Linked DNA regions of Homo sapiens: region 2 is linked to region 1. The links come from fine-mapping of genetic effects on gene expression. Tissue or cell type: gastroesophageal junction. Region 1 holds a variant in brackets; the other region holds the start of a gene. All regions are shown on one strand. Distances are between the middles of the regions.

Evidence for each region. PIP is the estimated chance that this variant, and not a neighbour inherited with it, causes the effect.
Region 2: it holds the start of GGH, and the variant in region 1 is fine-mapped to the expression of GGH in gastroesophageal junction (GTEx, PIP 0.97).

Annotation. Positions count from the first base shown.
Region 1 is chr8:63,111,221-63,121,780 of GRCh38, forward strand. No RefSeq gene overlaps it. Among named protein-coding and RNA genes, the nearest start is that of TTPA, 30 kb to the left of the region's middle. The variant T/C (reference allele first, on the strand shown) is at 5,312.
Region 2 is chr8:63,033,381-63,043,940 of GRCh38, forward strand. It overlaps GGH (gamma-glutamyl hydrolase), which reads right to left and starts at 5,426. Exons shown (of 9, transcript NM_003878.3): 1 at 5,280-5,426; 2 at 2,276-2,390. The coding sequence starts at 5,388. RefSeq lists a silencer at 5,460-5,819.

The DNA of each region.
Region 1 (10,560 bases):
TTTAATTAATTTCACTTTAGCACCACCTAGTGGAAAGTTTGAAGAAATAAATTGGATTTTTTTCTGTCTTTCAAACAAGGAAAAATGTAAAGTGTCCTGAGTTCATTTTAAAGTCAGCTCAAAGTAAATTGCACTTCCTAAAGTGATCGAGGAAACGAATATGCTCCATTTAAAAACAAGAAGCCCTGTAGTCTCAACTATTTATGAAGCTGAGGAGGGGGATCACTTGAGCCCAAGAGTTAGAGTCCAGCTTGGGCAACATTGTAAAATCCCATCTCAAAAAAAAAAACTGGAAGCAACTTTATATTTGTAAAACTCCTTTTTTTCTAGTTATAAGTTGAAACTTACCCATCTTATGTATTTTACAAAGTAAAAAAGTCTACTAGGTTAAAACTCATTCATAATTCCCCCATTCAAGTATGTATGTAATTTCAGACATTTTTTTCTATGTCCATGGGTGTACATTTACATTTCAAAATGGAGTTTATGTTGTAGTACTGTTTTCATTTAACACTTCGTTGGTTACATCAAGCTATTAAATATCTATTACAATGTTTCATGGATGGATTCAGTTAAAATATATGTAATTTGAACATATATCTTGGCAAATAAGCAAAAGAGAAAACTTTGAAAAAGATAGGCTGGAAGTTGAGTCTGAAAATTCTATGAACTAGATAAGCAACCTCAGGCTAAATCTGTTGAAGGTCAGTTTGTTATCAATAAAACTTGAATAAAGTCAATTTCATAAGGTTAATAGGAATAAATGGCACATTGTGCAAATAAAAAACTAGTATACAGAGATAATTAATAAATAGTAACTATAGCTATAAGTTGGTTGATGCAAATTTAATAGATATAAAAATCATTTAGCTGGCCGGGTGTGGTGGCTCACACCTGTAATCCGAGCACTTTGGGAGGCTGAGGTGGGCAGATTACTTGAGGCTGGGAGACCAGCCTGGCCAACATGATGAAACCACTAAAAACAAACAAACAAACAAACAAAAATTAGCCGGGCATGGTGACGGGGGCCTATAATCTCAACTACTCCAGAAGCTCAGACAGGAGAATTGCTTGAACCCGGAGGTGGAGGTTGCAGTGAGCCGAGATTGCACCACTGCACTCCAGGCTGGGCTACAAAGCAAGACTCCATTTCTAAATAAATAAATAATTTAGTTATGCTGGAAAGTCATTCCATGGTTATTAAAATTAATCTGTCACAACTAAGCCTTAAAACTTCTTTATTTTGAAGAACATTCATAGAATTTGCTTAAAAATTAAATTGATTTAATAAAATGTTAAATTTTTATAGCACGCATGTTTTATTAATATAATATCTGTCTGAAATTAAATAAAAATGAGAGCTGGGTGCAGTGGCATGGGCCTGTAATCCCAGCTACTCAGCAGGCTGAGGTGGGAAGATTGCTTCAGCCCAGAATTTCCAGGCTACAGTGAGCTACGATAATGCCACTGCACTCCAGCCTGGGTGACAGAGTGAGACCTTGTCTCTAAAAAATAAGTAAAATGAGTCAAATGCATACCATTTTATGAAGTTGTAAGAATAATGTGGTTTCAGCTTTTACTTCTATGTATTTAATTACTATACATCTAATGTCATGATCTGTCATGACATACTTCATATGTCTTCACTCTTGGACATATTTAGGGCATTTAAAAAATGAGATTAAACAAGTAAACAATATGAATATATTGTTACATGTGTTTTTAAATTTTAACTAATGTATGTGTGGTGAATGTTCATAGTTTCCATTATTTTCTTATTTCTAAACTGTTATGATCATTATCTGTATTTATACATCTTTGCATGCAGCCAATGCAGAAATGAAATTGTAAAAATAGTGACCAATTTTTTTTAATTTTTAAAAAAGAAATGAAATTGTGGGAATAATGGCAAGTTTAGAGTAGCGATTATAACTTTTTTTTTTTCTTAGAGATAGAGTATCATTCTGTCACTGAGTCTGGAGTGCAATGGTACAATCATAGCTCACTATACCCTCACACTTCTGGGGTCAAAAGATCCTTGCAACTCAGCCTCCTGAGTACCTGGGACCACACGCATGCACCATTATCAGCCGGCTAATTTTTGGTATTTTACATAGTGAGGGGGAGGTGGGGGATGCCTCAATATGTTGCCCAGGTTGGTCTTGAACTCCTGTCCTCAAGCACTTCTCCCACTTTGGCCCCCCGAAGTGCTAGGATTACAAGCATAAGCTGCTGTAACTTGCCATTATTCCCACAATTCCCCAGCCTGTGCCAGACAGGTTGTTCTTTAAGGAATCATCCCACAAAGGCAGAGGTAACTCCTTAAAACAAATTAAAAGTAAGCAATTTTATGGTGACCACTAGTAATCTCTCTTATGATCCAGCTAGATCCAGGTGTTGAGTTTACAATACCTAAAAGAATATTCGGAGTACATCCTAGTTCAGGCTCTGTGGAAATAACGTCTGAGATGGTGATCTGCACACAGGGAGTTTATTGGGGCGTGCGCTCAGGAGGAACACCTATAGGGGTGCCAGGGAAGTAAACTGGGCAGAACTTAAACTGTGATGCAGCAGCTGGAGAGGCTTCAGTCAATCCCAGAGAGAGACCTGGAGCTGGATCGCCCTTCAGAGATGAAGGAAAGAAGGTCACCTGTGCCCTCACCCCAACCAATAGCTGGATGGAAGCTGTCTCCAGGGAGAGGACGTAACCTTGGATAAGTCAGCCTCCTTCTGCTAAGGGTGATTTCTGAAGAGGAACTGTGAGACATCAGTAGCCAACAGTGTGAGCAGCTGGGGAAATGAGTGTGTCAGTCCTGAAGGGCCAGATCTGGAAAATACACCACAGCAGCCAGCACAAAGTATAAATTCTCTGTCAGTCTTCCCAGAACATGACTTCTCTCACTCAGCTGAGATATTGATAACATCTCAGCAATTGATACATAATGCTTGACCGTTACTGAAACTGCAGATTTTCTCTGCTGTCACTTAAATAGACTCATGTGTGTTATCAGGCAAGTCAGAGGTCTGACATTCTCTGTGAAAACTGAGAAAACTAACCAAAAATTGCATCTGAATGAAGGCCACTACTTCTCCAAGGAGATAGATGATCCAAAGAAGTATGTATGCTGAAGGTCAGATCCAGAATCTACTTATAATTTTTTTAAATTTCTTTCCAAAAGGTAGATAAACAAGGGCTTGAGGTCCTGAAAGTCCATTCTACATAGCATGGCAGCTTGGCCTCAAAAATTTCAGCCTGCAAAATGAGGAGGCACTCTGAGGTTTCTAAGCTTCATTCAGTTAGAATAGAAGGTAGTCGCTAAAGACATTCAAAGAATCAGCAGTATGTTGAGAAGGAAACTAGCTAACTGCATTAATCTTGATCAAGATGAAGACTTGCCATAAAATGCACCACAAGTCCTGAAGCTGGTGAAAGGAAGTTTCTTCATAATTATAGTGTTCCTTAATGTTTTCTGTAGACTCCAAATGGAGTTGGAGGAATTCTATTTCCCCCGATGATTATGCTTTAACAGGATCTATTTTTCTCTTTTGAATTCCTAGGGCATCCTCTTAGATATTCAAACAACATTTCTCCATTTCTTGGATACTGGAGTGTACATGACAAACTTTATGTTCTGTATTGATGTGCCTAAGATTCTGCAACTTTTGGCAGAAAAGTATTTGCAAAATACTTTTCTATTTGTCTGGTGCTTTCTTTTTTCTTTTCTTTTTTTTTTCTTTTCTTTTTTTTTTTTTTTTTTTTTTTTTGAGACAGAGTCTTGCTCTGTTGCCCAGGCTAGAGTGCAGTGGCACGATCTCGGCTCACTGCCAGCTCCACCTCCCGAGTTCACGCCATTCTCCTGCCTCAGCCTCCCAAGTAGCTGGGACTACAGGCACCCGCCACCACACCTTGCTAATTTTTTGTATTTTTAGTAGAGACAGGGTTTCACCGTGTTAGCCAGGATGGTCTCGATCTCCTGACCTTGTGATCCACCCACCTCAACCTCCCAAAGTTCTGGGATTACAGGGGTGAGCCACCGCGCCCAGCCGGTGCTTTCTTAACTTCTCCAGGTATGTTGGGAAAGATTGCCTTCTCCACTTGGTGTAGTCACTATTAATTCCTCCAACTGTCAGCCCCTCTCAGTCCATTCCTGGCCCATCTGTCCTGTGGCATCGCCCTACTGTGCTCCCTCTCAGATTCTCATTTCCATCAGTCAGCGATTCTGAGTATATTCTAAGTGCATTCAAGTCTAATTATGTAAAAGAATCATTTCTCCAAAGAAGCAACATAATTCTGCTAAAGCCTATTCTGATCATCTTTATAAGTTATTATTTTTTTGATTTCACGTTTCATAAATTATTTATGAGGTTGAACATTTCTCACATGTTTATTGGTCATTTGGGTATTTTCTCTGATGAATTCCTGGCTATTGTCTTTGCCCATTTTTCATTGAAAATGTGTTTTTATTTCTATTGATTTGTACGTGACCTTTATCCATTAAGGATATCAATCCATTTTTCCTCAATCTGTTTTTTTTTTAGTAAAATGTAGAGAAAAATAATGACTTACCAAAACGACTTCAAATTTAACCTTTGCAATTGAGTTCAACATTCTCCCATCATAAACTGACATCTTTTTAAATATGTTCATAAATCTGTCTATGATATCACCGTTCTTCTCATCTCTAAGCTTGGAATTTTCTTTTTCCTTTTTGTTTTTAAGAGACAGAGTCTCACTCTGCTGCCCAGGCTGGAGTGCAGTGTTATGATCATAGCTCTCTGTAGCCTCAAACTCCTGGGCTCAAGTAATCTTCCCATTTCAGCCTCTGGAGTAGCTGAGACAACAGATGTGCACCACCATGCCTGGCTATTTTAATTTAAAATTTTTTGTACAGATGGGGTCTGGCTACGATGCCCAGGCTGGTCTCAAACTCCTGACCTCAAGCAATCCTCCTGACTCGGCTTCCCAAAGTTGTAGGGCTAAGGATATATCTATTTGTTATGTACTAAATGCTTATAAATTATTTATATTATAAAATATAGACAAGCATTTTACAGTATGATATAAAGAAGAAATAATTTAAAATCGTTTAGTTTTACTAATGGTATAAAGATACTTTTTGCTCTTACTATTAATATTTTTGCTGAGTACTGAGTGAATATGCATAATCATTTTTATTTTGAGTAATCATTTTTCAATACAACAATCAAAAGTTAAATTGTAAGTTCAGCTTATTTTGATAATCAGCTGTATTTTTAAAAGATACCTCTCGGTGCGGTGGCTCACGCCTGTAATCCCAGCACTTTGGGAGGC[T/C]GAGGTGGGCAGATCACGAGGTCAGGAGATCAAGACCATCCTGGCTAACATGGTGAAACCCCGCCTCTACTAAAAATAAAAAAAATCAGCCAGGTGTGGTGGCACGTGCCTGCAGTCCCAGCTACTCGGGAGGGCGAGACAGGAGAATCACTTGAACCCAGGAGGCAGAGGTTGCAGTGAGCCAAGATCGCACCACTGCCCTCCAGCTTGGGCGACAGAGCAAGACTCGGTCTCAAAAAAAAAAAAAAAATTAAAAATAAAAAGATACCTCACAAAAATATGTAGATCCAATACTTGCTATTCAATTTCATACACTTATTCAAAAGTTTTCATTGAAAATCAATGAAAACTTAATACTTCCACTTTTCCTAATGTCAATTAGCTGTTTCCTAATGTCAATTAACTAGAAGGTGCTGTATTTTCAAATTTTTAAAAGCACTGGAATCTCACTGAAGTGCTTCATTTTAAAGTGAAGGACTTTAGAATATGTTTAAAAATTCTGTTTCTAAGTAAGTTTCCTAAGCATGTGGAGATATGAGAATTTGTATAGGTGATATATTTGTTCCAAAAATACAATTATATCATAATTTTAAAAACATTTGGTGTCAAAATACTTCTGTTTATTTTATGGAAAAAAACAACTTTTGTATTTTTAATTAAAATGCCATATGAACTGACAGATAAAATGTGTGTTTTTAGGTATCCACTAGGTGGAGTAACACTAATCTAACAATACTTACCAACAAAGGTCAACAAAGTTAGAAACTCTTCCTTTTTAAGGTTTTTATTGGAAATTAACATGTACACACTACGTAAGAATAATTAAATTCAAATAAATAACAGCTCTAAATGTTAGAACTAAAACTATAAACTTCTATAAGAAAACATACAAGAAAATATTTGTGACCTTGCTTAAGGCAAACATTTACTAGATAGGATACAATAAGTATGAACCATAAAAAATAAAATTGATAAATTGGACTTAATAAAAATTGAACACTCTGGTCTTTAGAAGAACTACTATGAAAAAGGAAAAAAAAAAAAAGCCCCAGACTGGGAGAAAATGTCTCCATGAAATGTCTTGATGAAGGACATTTATATGGGATATGGAAAGAACCCTCACAAGTCAATAAGAAGACAATCAAGAGAAATCAAAATACCATAAAGAGCTATAGGTGAATGTTTATTCAAAATAGCCAAAATCTGGGAAAAAAATACATATCCATCTATTGTTAAGTAGATAAACCGATTGCGGATAAATGTGGAAAAACAATGGATAAACCTCTTTATAATGAAATACTGTTCAACAAGAAAAAGGAATGAGTGCTGGTACATGCAATAACATGGATGAATCTCAATAGTATTACAAATGATGCTAGAATGAATAACCTATATCACGCATGTAATTTTGCAAGTGTGCAAATATATATGTGTATATGTATATATGATAAATTATTTGAAGGGGGATTACTGGGTCAGAAGACATGTGTGTTTGTCATTTTGATAGATATTTCAAAATTGCCTTCCTTAGGGGCTGTATTAATTTGCATTCCTACTAGCAGTGTAGAGGGTGCTCAAAAGAGTGTATAGAAGCCGAGCAATATAGTGAGACTCCGTCTGTATAAAAAATACAAACATTAGGTGACCATGGTGGCACATGCTTGTAGTCTCATCTAGTTGAAAAGCTAAAGTGGGAGGATTGCTTGAGCCCAGGATTTCAAGGTTATAGTGAGCTATGATCATACCATTGCACTCCAGCCTGGGCAGCAGAGTGAGATGCTAGCTCAAAACAAAAAGAAAAAAAAAAAGAGTGTGTAGAATTTATGGATTTTTGCTAATCTGACAGGGAAATTATTTCTAAGCATATATTTAATTGGTATTTCTGTTTAAATAGAAGCTCTAATATGTTACCTAGTACTCTAATTGATCATCTCACAGATCTCCTCAAATACATTACTTACTATACTACCCCAAAACTGCCACACTATTTTACACTTTTGGGCTTGGTGAACCCCTACTTATCCTTCAAAACTTTTACCATCTTTATGAAGTTTTCCTTGGCTCTTTTAGACTGTGATAAGATTACTTTCCTATGAACTATTGTTATACTTTGTGTCTGCTGCCCTACATGTCATAGTGAATTAAAATTCCTGGTCCTCCCCAATTCCCTGTGAACACTTAGGCATATTGGAGGGTTTATCTAAGTTCCGTGAGACACGGCTGCAATTCATGCAACTCTCCATGCTCAGGAGCTAGCATGGTGTCTGGCACAAATTAAGGCTACGATAAATGGGTACTGAACTGAAAGGAATGGTCTGTGCAGAAACAAACATGTTTCTGTAAATATGTGTGCATGAATGAATGCACATTTATAAAGGAAATTTTCTGATGAATAAATCTGCCTAACAATATAATTCTGTATCTAATAGTGATTTGTCTCAACCCTCCCACTCTTATAACTCACATTTTAAAAACGAAAATTTATGTCATTTGTTAAGTAGTTCAGTATGGTCCAGAAGTAGCTAGTAGAATGAGAGAGCCAGGCTTCTTCATTTTATGTTGAGTTCCACCTGTTCATAATGGGCATAAATAACAAAATCATCTAAAATGCTGGTGTGGAAGGAATCTGTTACCTTTTCAGCCTCCTAGAGGCAGGGGGAAAATCCTGGTAGCACTATAAAACAAGATCTGGGGCAAGAGATAATGTGCGGCAGATATTCCAAAGTGAATGCAGGTGTCCTGAAATGTGTCACTCAGAGAAGCATGTCTGCTCTCCTTGTATTCTAAGGACATTATAGAAAGCCCTTTTGGAGAAGAGCAAGCTGGTCAACACGTCATTTGGGTCATGCAGATAGTGTAACACTTTCTGTAATGCCCTTAGAATGCTGTCTGTATTCTAAGGGCATTATAGAAAGCATTACACTACAAATCCTTCACCTGTACCAAGCACATATCCATAAACCGCCCCAGATCTAAAGGACCAAGAGAACTTCTCATTATCCATTCATCAAAGAGTAGACATTTGGGCATGATGCCTGGAAATAAACCTTATATACTAATACCTCACAAACTCAATAGGGAGGATGAATATCTTATCATCATTCACAGTCGGCGAAGATTTCTACAGAATTTGTGAATAATAGCTTAGGAGAAACAAGAAGCATTTCTTTCAGATCCATGACCACTCCTAAAGAGTCAGTGAGTCAGTGCCAGGGAAGGCGGAAGAGAACTACTATATGCTATTTAGCAAATTTTTTTTTTTTGAGACAGAGTCTCGCTCTGTTGCCCAGGCTGGAGTGCAGTGGTGCGATCTCGGCTCACTGCAAGCTCCGCCTCCCGGGTTCACACCATTCTCCTGCCTCAGCCTCCTGAGTAGCTGGGACTACAGGCGCCCACCACCACACCCGGTTAATTTTTTTTGTTGTTGTATTTTTAGTAGAGACGGGGTTTCACCGTGTTAGCCAGGATGGTCTCGATCTCCTGACCTCGTGATCCGCCCGCCTCGGCCTCCCAAAGTGCTGAGATTACAGGCGTAAGCCACCGCGCCCAGCCTATTTAGCAAATATTTTTAAAATAACTATGTGTTGGACATTACATTAGGTAATCTGGACAAAAAGTTGAATAAGGTATCATGTCTGCCCTAAAGAAGCATAGAATGTAATTCTGAGGATGAGACAGTGGTAACATCACATATTTCTACAATGCTTTTCAGTTTACAAAGAACTTTACATTGTAAATTCACACATTGTGAATTCACCTCTTTGCCCCCCTTTCTATGCTACCGGAATGTAAAGGCCATCAGCAAAATACAAAGTACTATGGAGGATCAAAAGAAAGAGATTCCTTGTGGTTGAGTAGTAGGAGTGGGGTAAGAAGTGAATACTTCATGGGGAAGGAAGCATTTTAGGTGAGCTTTGAAAGGTGAACATGTTTCAGTACACAATGATTGGTGGCAATGGTTCTATGAAACAACTTGTGCATAGACACAAAGTCAAGAGAAGATATGTATGTGAACTGGGGATTAGTGACTAGATTAAGAAAGGGAAGAATTTAGCAGAAGCATGAGGAAAATTATTTGGCTGGAAAAGTAGAAGAAGATAAGTCTAGAAATTTAGATTCAGGAATGTTCAGCTTAACTCATCCAGACTCGGGGTAGGTGAACAAATTGTGCTTTAATCTTAGGTAGGAAGATCAGGTTAGCTACAACTGAGCACCATCACAACAGGTACCCTGAGCAAAGTTGTGCCATAGGCATTTTTACCATCCTTCAAAAGAGTTCCTTATTTATTTCAAGCTACCCCTCCTAGATTAGCACCAAATTCACTTGATATTCTATATCCTCCTCCAAAAATCTTATCAAGAGTAACCTTTTCTTAATATAGTCACTAATCCTCAATTCATATACATATCTTCTTTTTCACCATTATTTCCCATGTAGCAATTGTCTCTAAATCACCAAAATTTGACTGTTCTTTTATTCATTTGCTAGTTTGTAGTTTCTGATTTTCCGTAAGGAGCAGAAAGTTTTAATAATGCAAATCTATTTTTGTAATAAAATATGATTACCTATACCTTAGATTATATCCTTCAATATTCTATTATATAAAGAATATGTGTCCTTTTTCTACAACCTAATGTCACACATACTTTTTTGCAATTTACCATTTATTGGACATGTAGGGTACCCCAAATTTTTGAAATGACACTGAAGAGCAGTTAAAAGTAGATGAAAATAAGTTAGTATTAAAAAGTACAATCCCTTTGTACACTAAATCTAGTTTGTTTGTGTTTTGTTTTTTCTTTTTTAAGTACAACCCGCCACAGTTAGGGGATGAGGGAGAAAAATTGGCAAAAAAATGCTTAAAGATGCATAAAACATTACAAAACCATCCCCATGACCCAAATGACATGTTGACCAGTTTGCTTTCCTCCAAATTATTTTCAAATAGTAATGTTTCACTATGAGTACTATACTAGCCAATGATGATATTAAAGATAAAATACCTTATAATTTGTTTTTATTTTAGGTTTGGGAGTACATGTGAATGTTTGTTACATAGGTAAACACATGTCACAGGGGTTTGTTTTACAAATTATTTCATCACCCAGATATTAAGCCCATTACCCAATAGTTATCTTTTCTACACCTCTCCCTCCTCCCACCCTCCTCCCTCAAGGAGGCCCCAATGTCTGTTGTTTCCTTCTTTGTGTTCATAAGTTCTTATCATTTAGCTCCCAAAGATGAAATA
Region 2 (10,560 bases), 78 kb before region 1:
GGCTTTTCTGTGTTGAGAGGCTCTTGATTACCATTTCAATCTCTCCACCAGTGACAGGTTTGTTACCTATTTCTTTATGATTCAGTCTTGGTAGACTGTGTGTTTCTAACAATTTATTCATTTCTTCTAGGTTACACATGTTGTTGGCATATAGTTTAAGTAGTCTTTTATGAACCTTTTTATTTCTGTAGCATTAGTTGTAATGTCTCCTCTTTCAGTTATGATTTTACTTCATTTATTTTTTATAATTTTAACTTTTATTTTAGATTCAGAGGGTACATGTGCAGATTTGCTACATGGGTATATTGTGTGATGCTGAGGTTTGGGGTACAAATGATCCTGTCACCCAGGTAGTGAGCACAGTATCCAATAGGTAGTTTTTCAGCCCTTATTGCCCTCCTCCTCTAGTAGCCGCCAGCATCTATTGCTGCCATCTTTGGGTCCATGTGTACCCAATGTTTAGCTCCCACTTATAAGTGAGAATATGTGGTATTTGGTTTTCTGTTTCTGCATTAATTCACTTGGGCCTCCAGCTGCATTCACATTGCAGCAAAGGATATGATTTCATTCTTTTTTATGGCTGCTCTGCCTTTTGTCTCTCCTTATATATATATATATATGTCTCTCCTTATATATATATATAATATATATAAAAATATATATATATTTTTATATATATCTCCCATCCACACGGTCAGCACTAACATCCCAGAAGAACAGCTTGCATTAAAAAGTTTCCCTGATGAAAACTTTGAAACACTGTTCTGAAGACTCTCTGGAGCCTCTTCCTCAGCTCTAAAACTCTGGCGTTATATGGGCTTCAAATAAAATTTCGTTTGAAAAATTAGATAGGCTACTAAAATATTAAAGACTAATATCAAAAGCAAATGGCAATCTTGGTGTAGAAACAGTTAATTTAAATGTAAAAGATCATACAAGAAGACAATTCTTATAAATCTAAACCTAAAGCCATTTTGTGGTACAATTCTCTAAATTGTAATATTTGCATTTTATTAGTAGTATTATATTTGAACAGTATTTTTGTTATAATTTTTGATGAGGAATTGTTTGCAAAAACAGGCTGTACAGAATAAATAGTGTTTTATGTGTGAAATCACTCAAAATGGATTAGATGAGGTGCTCAAAGATTCTAAAATACATTAATTTTAGCTGACAAGACATTACAAATCCTTATAAGATTCTGGTTGTTAGCTCCTTCCAGATGAAAAATATGGGAAGAATTCAGTTCTAAATGAAAATGAGATGAATCATTTTATTCTTATAGGAACATTTTATCACAAAAATAATGCAGTGCCTTTAAAACTGCAATACCTATAATCCACACTGAAGCAACCCTAATGCACTGGTAATTTACAAACTTTTAAAGTAGAGTGTGAAGGTATTTTAAAAGTCATCTTCTAAAAACCTCCTTCATTCCCTAACTGTTCTCTTATCCTAATATTATAGAACAAAGCTGGTTAAATTGTAGATTCATTAAAATTTTTTTCTTATTTCAATAGCCTTTGGGGTAAAAATGGTTTTTGGTTACATGCATGAACTGTATAGTGATGAAGTCTGAGATTTCAATGAACCAGCCACCCGAGCAATGTACACTGTACCCAATATGTAATTTTTTATCCCTCACCCCGCCCCCCCAACCACTTTAGATTATTTTACTCCATTACCTTCATAGTGTCTGTGAGAACCACCTTTTCTGGGATAAAGGAAACTATCATTTCATTCTTGATGTTAATGCATATGACATATGGTACCTCTAATGACGTTACAGGTAACACACAGCTTCCCACATTAAACAATTCAATGAGAGACTCTAAGCAACATGTTTGTGTCAAAAATCAGGTGCAATGTTACTGCATTTAAACAATGTAATCATAAGAGAGAAAGCACGAATTTTAGAGATATTAGGCAGTAATTATTATTTTGAGATGGAGTCTCGATCTGTTGCCCAAACTGGAGTGCAGTGGTGCGATCTCAACTCACTGCAACCTCCACCTCCCTGGTTCAAGCGATTCTCCTGCCTCAGCCTCCCCAGTAGCTGGGATTACAGGAGTGCACTACTGCACCCAGCTAATTTTTGTATTTTTAGTAGAGACAGGGCTTCACCAGGTTGGCCTGGCTGGTCTCGAACTCCTGACCTCAGTAGTCCACCCGCCTTGGCCTCCCAAAGTGCTAGAATTACAGGCATGAGGCACCGCACCCGTACGCAGCAATTTTTTATACAGAGTAAAAAAAAAAAAAAAACACTGAATCATACCTTACTGGTACAACTCTCGCACCTGCAGACTCCAAGTACTTTACATAGGACGCAGCAATATAGTATCTTCCATAGTTTTTCATGACTTTATTACGGCATTTTTGCATTAATATTCCTAATAACAAAAAAAAGTTTAGTTTCAAGCAAATTCCTTTTCTTCTTGCTCAGAAACTGAAATATATCACAGCAAAAATATCATATTTTATTATTTCAATCCACAGAATTAAATAGGAAGTCTCTCCTCCAAGTCCACCCATAGCCTATGGGAAAGCAGCAGGGGAGGCTGATCTTACTTTCAAGTAGATCTATCTCTCACCTCATTAGGGAGGCCAAATAAGCCCCCAAAGAAGGCTTACAATAGCACTTGCAGCCTTCACACAACTGTAGACCTAGAATCCATCTAAAGAATATAGATCCTTAAATTTACAAGGCTGTCACTCCTTTCCCACACATACTCACAGACACACTGATTCCCTGACAACGAAGCAAAGGAGTGAAAACATCTTCCATCCACACCTCTCCAACATTACCTTAGCCCAAGCTATCAATATCTACCCTCTCCCCACCACACTATCATAATAGACTCTTAGAAGGTCTTGTTATATCTTTTCTTAAGAAACCCCCCCAAGCTCCAAGCAGCTCCCCATGTAGAAGCAAATCGGATCATATCACCATTCCTATTCCTACAGTCATTCAATATATACTGTTGAATCATACCTCATGCCAGGCAACAAACTAGCTGCTGGGGACACATGACTATGAGTGAACCAAACAAAAGCCCCTGCCCTGTGTGCATTAATTCGAGGGTGTAGCAGGGAGGGGAAAGAGGACAAACAATAAACAAGACAAAAAGGCATAATATATAGAGTGATGGCTGGTCGTAAGCACTAAGGAGAGAAAGACGGTGGGGAAGGAGAGCCCATCTATGTAGGAAAGGACAGTCTCTTCAACACGGTGGCCAGGCAAGTCCTCCCTGAGAAGGTAAAACATGACATTTGAGCCAGGACTTCAGAGAGGTGACAGAGTAAACCACATTCATATATCTGGGAAAAGAGCAATCCAGGACAAAGGAATAGCAAGTGCAAAGGCCAGGAGTCAGATTTGTGCCTGTCACGTTGCAAGGAATCCATATTATTAGAGCCAGGTGAGTGAAAGCAGAAAGCAATAGGAAAGGACATCAGGTAGCGATAGATCAGCAAGCAGGTGTCACCACTTTGTTTAACTACCTCAGTGGGTCCCTAAACTTTAATAAACTCTGTAAGACCCGTATGCTCTGCCCCACCCATCTCTCTGGCCTCCTTTTACCAGTGAAACCCAGCCCCAGCAGAGTATAGCAACCAGTATACATCAAAACACGTCTGTCGGGTGAGTACCTGTGCCTACTCCTATTCAGCACTTCAGCATTTGGAACACTTTCAGTGTCTCTGTAGGCCACCTGATAGGAAGAGCTGTTGTCTGTATTACTCACTTTTGTATTCCCAGCTTCTTACAATTGGCATTCATCAGGTATTCAGATTAACATGTCAAACGCCAAAATTTGTTCAGTAAAACTTTTTCTCCTTACTGGTAGGTAAGATCATCTTCACTAAGGAATAACAAAGTTTGGCTAGGGAACGAAGAACTAGGAGTGTCATAGGAAATGGAGTGGTACAGGGTACATGGGGTGAGGTACCACAAAGGAGACATGGGGCATCATGGGAGCACAAGGGTACCAGAAAGAGAAGTACATCAGAGTGAGTTCCACCAACATCTCCCCTTCCCCTGGGCCCACGCATATTCACTTTTCCCATCCCTGGGAAAAGAGCTCAAGCTGTTCTCCCTGTCCCTCAAAATATGACCAAAATTCCACCAATAATTTAAGGCCATCTCACAACTTTTGTGGCTTGTCATCTTTCAATCCTTTGCACTTCCCAGAGCAAGATTGTGTACATAGTCGGTACTCAGTTAACGATGTTGTGCTGATCTCAGTGACCAAAAGCAAAGTCCCTTTTTTAAATATTTGACGCAGGGCTACCCCTGATTCTAGGAAAGGGGAAGAATCCCCTCTGCTTTTTTTTCTCTTCTCTGGACACACAATATGCAACCTGTTACATTAATTACAGCTTGAGTTAATTCGTGGAGAATCAAATCACCATGTTAAACAGCTATGAAATAAGTTCCAAATATTAGTAAGCAACCCATTTGAAAACTGGGCACTACCTATATGAAAAAACATTCATCTACTTTCTGTTTAGTTACAGAATACAGTGATAATATTCATAGAAAAAAATAGTATGAAAGGCATAATCCTACAGCCAAAATAAAACTAATCTTAATGTCCACACACAAATTTCTTTGGGCAAATTTTAACCCCAGGATGATTTCTCCTAGGTAGCTTTCCTTGGGCCTGTCTCAAATGTGTGTTTTGGTAACACAGACTGATTTTACTACCTCTTTAAAACACAAATATGTTGGAAACGAAAAATTGTGGGCTGCATTTTAACACCAAATAGAACTCACATTAGGATATCAGCCACTGTTGTCCTCTGCTACTGAACATGACAAAATCCAAGTTATACCTTAATTTCTTGATTTTCTATTACAATGCACTGGTATTTTAAATACGCCATCAATACATTTTGATGAATGCAATGCATGTACAGAATTTGTAGATGTAAATGAGTAAAACTTCCCAACTATGTGCGAAAAGGAAATGTTTTATTTTAGTAGAAATTCCTAGCTGTGTACAAAAAAAGAAAATCCGCAGGATTCTTCATGGTGCACCCTCCTCCCTCCCACCTTTAAGAGTCATATGAGTCTAAAGGAATGAACGAGGTACCTCAACCAGGTACATTTCAGTACGACCTAAATGGTGCCCAGCCCGGGTTCCTCCTTGCACCAAAAGCGAAGCACATCTGGGGGTTTTTCCCGGCGGGACGCGCCAGCTGGAGCGCGGCGGCGGGAGGCGCCCAGCGCCAACACCCAGCTCCTCCCCGTCTGCTGCGGCCCCGCACAGCCTCCTTACCGATGATGGGCTTCTTGGCGGTGTCGCCGTGGGGTCTAGACAGCTCGAGGCTCGCCGCCCCGCAGAGTAGCAGGCCCAGCACGCACAGCAGGCAGCCCGGACTGGCCATGGCGCTCGCCGCCTCCCGCCGCCTTTCAAAAGCTCTGCGGGCGGGCGGGGGCTGCGGCAGGGACACCTCGCGGCAGCGCACTCGCGTGAGACTCGGGTGGGCGGTGCTCCGCAGCGTGGGCCTATGGGAAATGCAGTCCCGGCGCGCGCTAGGCGGCCGTGGGGCGGCGGTGGGAGGCTCTGGGAGTGCAGCCGGCGCTGCGCGCCCGCCCCATTGCTCTGTCCCCGGTCCGCGACCGCGACCGCGACCCCGACCCCCACGGGCCGCCTAAGCGGAGACTCTGGAAACGCCTGGGGCGGGTACCGGGTGGTCTCCGCGTCCTTCCCTTTCAACTGTTACGTCGATGTGGACTTCAGTCACCCGTACAAAGCTGGGCTGGCCAACCCAGGTCCTCGAGAGGGGAGGTTGGGTGTCCCCGGCCGAGTTTGGTAACCAGGCAGCGGGGAGGCTGGCAGGGGATTCTAGAAGGCGCCTGAGAACTGCGCGCCAACCGCACCGCCCCCTTGAAGGTCGGGGCCCTATCTCCGGGAATGGTGACAACGTTCGCTGTACGGACAGCCTGTGCCCCTGAATGTGAATGTCCACACTTGCTATTTGGGGGGTCGCGGCATCTGTAGGAAGTGAAGACGGGACGGCGATAGGAACACACGCACAGGCGCATCACTAGGGTCAGAACTGGGCCAACTCCGGGCGTCTACTTTGAAGCGGGCACGCCCAGGCCACGCCTGCAAACGGCGTCAGCTTCCTCTGATCAACCGCGGTCAGCGCCATCCACCGACCACCACTAAGCCTATCCACCGGGGCAGAAAAGATGACTGGTTCCTATTCGTTAAAACTGTTGATTGTTCCTAAATACATGGATATATAGCTTGTACTCAGTGAAAGTTTCCATCTATAAGGGCCAACTGAAATTCAGCATAAAACAAGAATATTTGAAAACCTGCTACATCAATGCTCAGTATTAAGGGTGAAAACGTAAATTGGACAGTCTTTTTCACAAGAGGTTTAAATTCAGTAAGGAAAAAAGGCAGAAAGCGTGACTCGTAGAGACAACAGGAACAATTTTAGCATGTTGCAAGAAGAGTAAATGCAGTGAATAGTCTGGTTTAACAAGAAAATAACGCTTCTGTAGAAGGGTGTGGTGAGAGGTAAGCAACAAAGGATGTGATGAAAGACATGAAAGGGCCGAGCTGGTTTTGAGCATGATTAAATAGACAAGTAGCCTTGTAAATATGAACTTGTGGTGCCAGAATAATTGACTATCCACATAGGAAAAATTTTTTACCCGGCGTTACACACAAAAATAAACTCGAGGTGAAGTGCATATGTAAATACGAAAGCAAAATATTATACTTTGATAAGAAAATATATAAATATATCTTCCTAACTTAGGCTGTTGGAAGAGTTTCATAAAACATTAAAAATAAAAATGTTAATTAAAAATTGACTATATAAGAAAATTAAAGTTAAAGCACAAACTTGGAAAATATAGTTATAAAATATAAAGTATTTCTAAAATATGCGAAGAAATAATAAGAAAAATGACACAATAGAAAAATGGAAAAAGAATGTGAAAAGCAAACCAAACTTTCTGTAGTCATCAGAAAAATGCAAGATAATATGTCACATCCATTAGACTGTGTAGAAAAACAGCCTGTTTCCTGGCAAGAGTGACACCATCTTGAAGCAAAACTATCCTGGGGACTGATGTTTGACCCACAGCATACCGAGGTGTTCTGCAGCAAAGGTCTTTAAACAATGCTCATAACATATATAACCCCTCATAAAGATGCTTATCTAACGTCCCCAGTGATCACAATAGTCTAAGAGCTAACTAGTTGCACTTGTCTTTACCCTAGAGGCTTGCTAAATAAAGCATACTTTCTGGAGGGCAAGTGCAGGGGTCGCTTCTGTTTGTCTCTACTAAGTATTTCTTTCTGAGAAATTCGATTGGTCAGCCTCTTTGGTCTCCCAGCTTCCTCCATCTTTGGAAGCAGGTTTCTGTAAATTGACAAAAATGTAAGCCTTTGATAATAAGTCAAGGATGTAGTAAAATGACAGTTCTCTGCATTTCTTGTGGAATTGTAATTATTATAACTATTTTTGAGAAAAATTAAGCAATATCTGGTAAAGGTGAAGATCTAAATGTTCTGTAACCCAGTACATTCTGGATATAAGTGTGTACCTAGATTAATGCGTGCTCATGTGAACAAAAAAAATATGTGTAAGTATGCTCTTTGGAGCATCTTTTTGTAATAGTAAAATATTAAATGTAAATGACCAATGTCATAAAGTTTTTCCCATGTGTTTTCTTCTAGTAATTTTACAGTTTCAGGTCTCATATTTAACTGCTTAATTCACTTTAGTTGATTTTTGTTCATGGTGAGAGATAAGGGTCTAATTTCCAGATTTTCCAACACTGTTTATTGAAGAAGATGCCCTTTCCCCATTGTGTGTTCTTGGCACCTTTGTCAAAAATCAATTGACAGTATATGTATTGGTTTATTTTTGGGCCTTCTATCCTAGTGCATTGGTCAATGCCCGTAATTTTATGCCAGTACCATGCTAGTTTGATTAAATTACTATAATTATAATATGTCTTGAAATCAGAGTATGATGGCTTCAACTTTGATTTTTTTTCTCAAGATTGTTTTAGGTATGTGGGGTCTTTTGTGGTTTCATACAAATTTAAGGATTTTTTTACATTTATGTGAAAAAAGTGACACTGGAATTTTGTAGAGATTACAATGAATCTGTATATTGCCGTAGGTCAGTCATATAGACATGTTCCCAATTTTAATTCTTCCAATCCATGAACATGAGATATCTTTCCATTTGCTTGTATTTTCTTATTTACTTGTATTTTTATGTGTTTTATAGTTTTCAGTGTACAGGCCTTTTACCTGCTCATTAAATTTACACCTAAGTATTTAATTTTTTGTTACTATTTTAAAGGGGATGGTCTTGTTAATTTCATTTTAATTTGTTATTACTATATAAAAATGCTGCTGACTTTTATATGTTGATTTTGTATTCTGTAACTTTACTGTTAATTTATCAGTTCTAATAGTTTTTTGGTGGATTCATATATAAGATCATGTCATAGAAAATAGGGATATTTTCACTTCTTCATTTCCTATTAGGCTTCAAATTTTTCCTCTTGCCTAATTGCTTTAGCTGGGACTTACGGTACTATATTGAAAAGAAGTGGTGAGAGTAGGCATACTTGTCTTGTCACTGATCTTAGAGGAAAAGCTTTCAGTGTTTTACTGTTGAGAATGATATTAGCTAAGGGTTTGTCATATGTAGCCTTTATTGTGTTGAGGTACATTCCCTCTATACCTATACCCAATTTGTTAAGAGTTTTTTTTGTTGTTGTTTTTGTTTTTTTTTTTTTGAGATGGAGTCTTGCTCAGTTTCCCAGGCTGGAGTGCAGTGGCGTGATCTCAGCTTACTGCAAGCTCCACCTCCCAGGTTCACGCCATTCTCCTGCCTCAGCCTCCAGAGTAGCTGGGACTACAGGCGCCCACCACTACACCAGGCTAATTTTTTTGTATTTTTAGTAGACAGGGTTTCACTGTGTTAGCCAGGATGGTCTCAATCTCCTGACCTCGCCATCTGCCCGTCTTGGCCTCCCAAAGTGCTGGGACTACAGGTGTGAGCCACCGCGCCTGGCCTTGTTAAGAGTTTTATTATAAAAGGATGTTGGGATTTTTCAAATGTTTTTTCTGCATGTATTGAAATCATTATATGATTTTTATCCTTGATTAATGTGGTATATCACATATTGATTTGTGTGTGTATATATGTCTATTATAGTAGATATAGGCAATGTATATTGTAATGTCTCCTCTTTCTTTTCTAATCTTGTTTGAGTAGGCTCTTGTTTTCCTAGTTAGTCTAGCTATGGGTTTGTCAACTTTATCTTTTCAAAAAACCAACTTAGTTTTGTTGATATTTTCTATTGTTTTTCTAGTCTCTATTTCATTTATTTCTGTGCTGATTTTTGTTATTTCCCCTCTTCTGCTATCATTGGGCTTAGTTTATACTTATTTTTCTAGTTTCTTGAGTGGTAATGTTAGATTATTTGTAACCTTTCTTTTTTTATATAGGTGTTCATTGCTATGAATTTCCCTCTTAGGATTGCTTTTGCTGTCTCCCATAAGTTTTGATACATTGTCTTACCATTTTCTTTTGTCTCATGGTAATTTTTTATTTTCTATTTGCTTTCTTCTTTAACCTATTGGTTGTTTAGGAGCATGTTGTTTCATTTCCACACATTTGTGTATTTTCCAAGATATCTCCTGTTACTGATTTCTGGTTTCATTCCATTGTGATCTCAAAAGATACTTGATATGATTTCAATTCTCTTAAATTTGTTAAGATTTGTTTTGTGCATTAACATATGGGCTATCCTGGAGAATGTTCTATGTGCACTTAAGAAGGATGTGTATTTTGTTGCTATTGGATACAGTGTTCTGTATATTTCTGTTTGGTCTATTTACTCTAAAGTGTAATGCAAGTCCATAGTTTCTTTATGGATTTTCTCTCTAGATGATCTGTCCATTACTGAAAATGGAATATGGAGAGCCCTACTGTAATATTATTAAATTATATTTTTTCCTTTAGATCATTTAGTAATTGCTTTATGTATTTAGGTGCTCTGATTTTAGGTGGGTGTATATTTACAATAGTTATGTCTTTGTGGTGATTTAACTTCTTTGTTATTATATAATAGCCTTCTTTTTCTCTTTTTATAGTATTTAACTTAAATCTATTTTGTCTGATATAAGTGTAGCTACCTCTGCTCTTTTCGTTTCTGTTTGCATGGAATATCTTTTCCATCCCTTCACTTTCAGTCTATGTGTGTCCTTATTACTAAAGTGAGTCTCTTGTGTGCAGCTTATGATTAGATCTTGCCTGACATGCATGTGCAAGCGACTCCACTGCCACCACCCTGATGAAGTGCTTTGGTTGGCACTCCTCATCAGAGTATTGTTACCAGCAGACTGGGAGCACCTTAGCTCCTAAGGTGCAGTAGGTGCTTAACCTCAAGGGGCCAGAGAACAAAGCCATGGGCCTGGTACTAGACCTCCAGGATTATAGCAAGCAGCTCAAGAGTACTTAGCTGAGCTTTGGTCCCCTGAAATCTTCCAGAAAGAAAACCAGTCA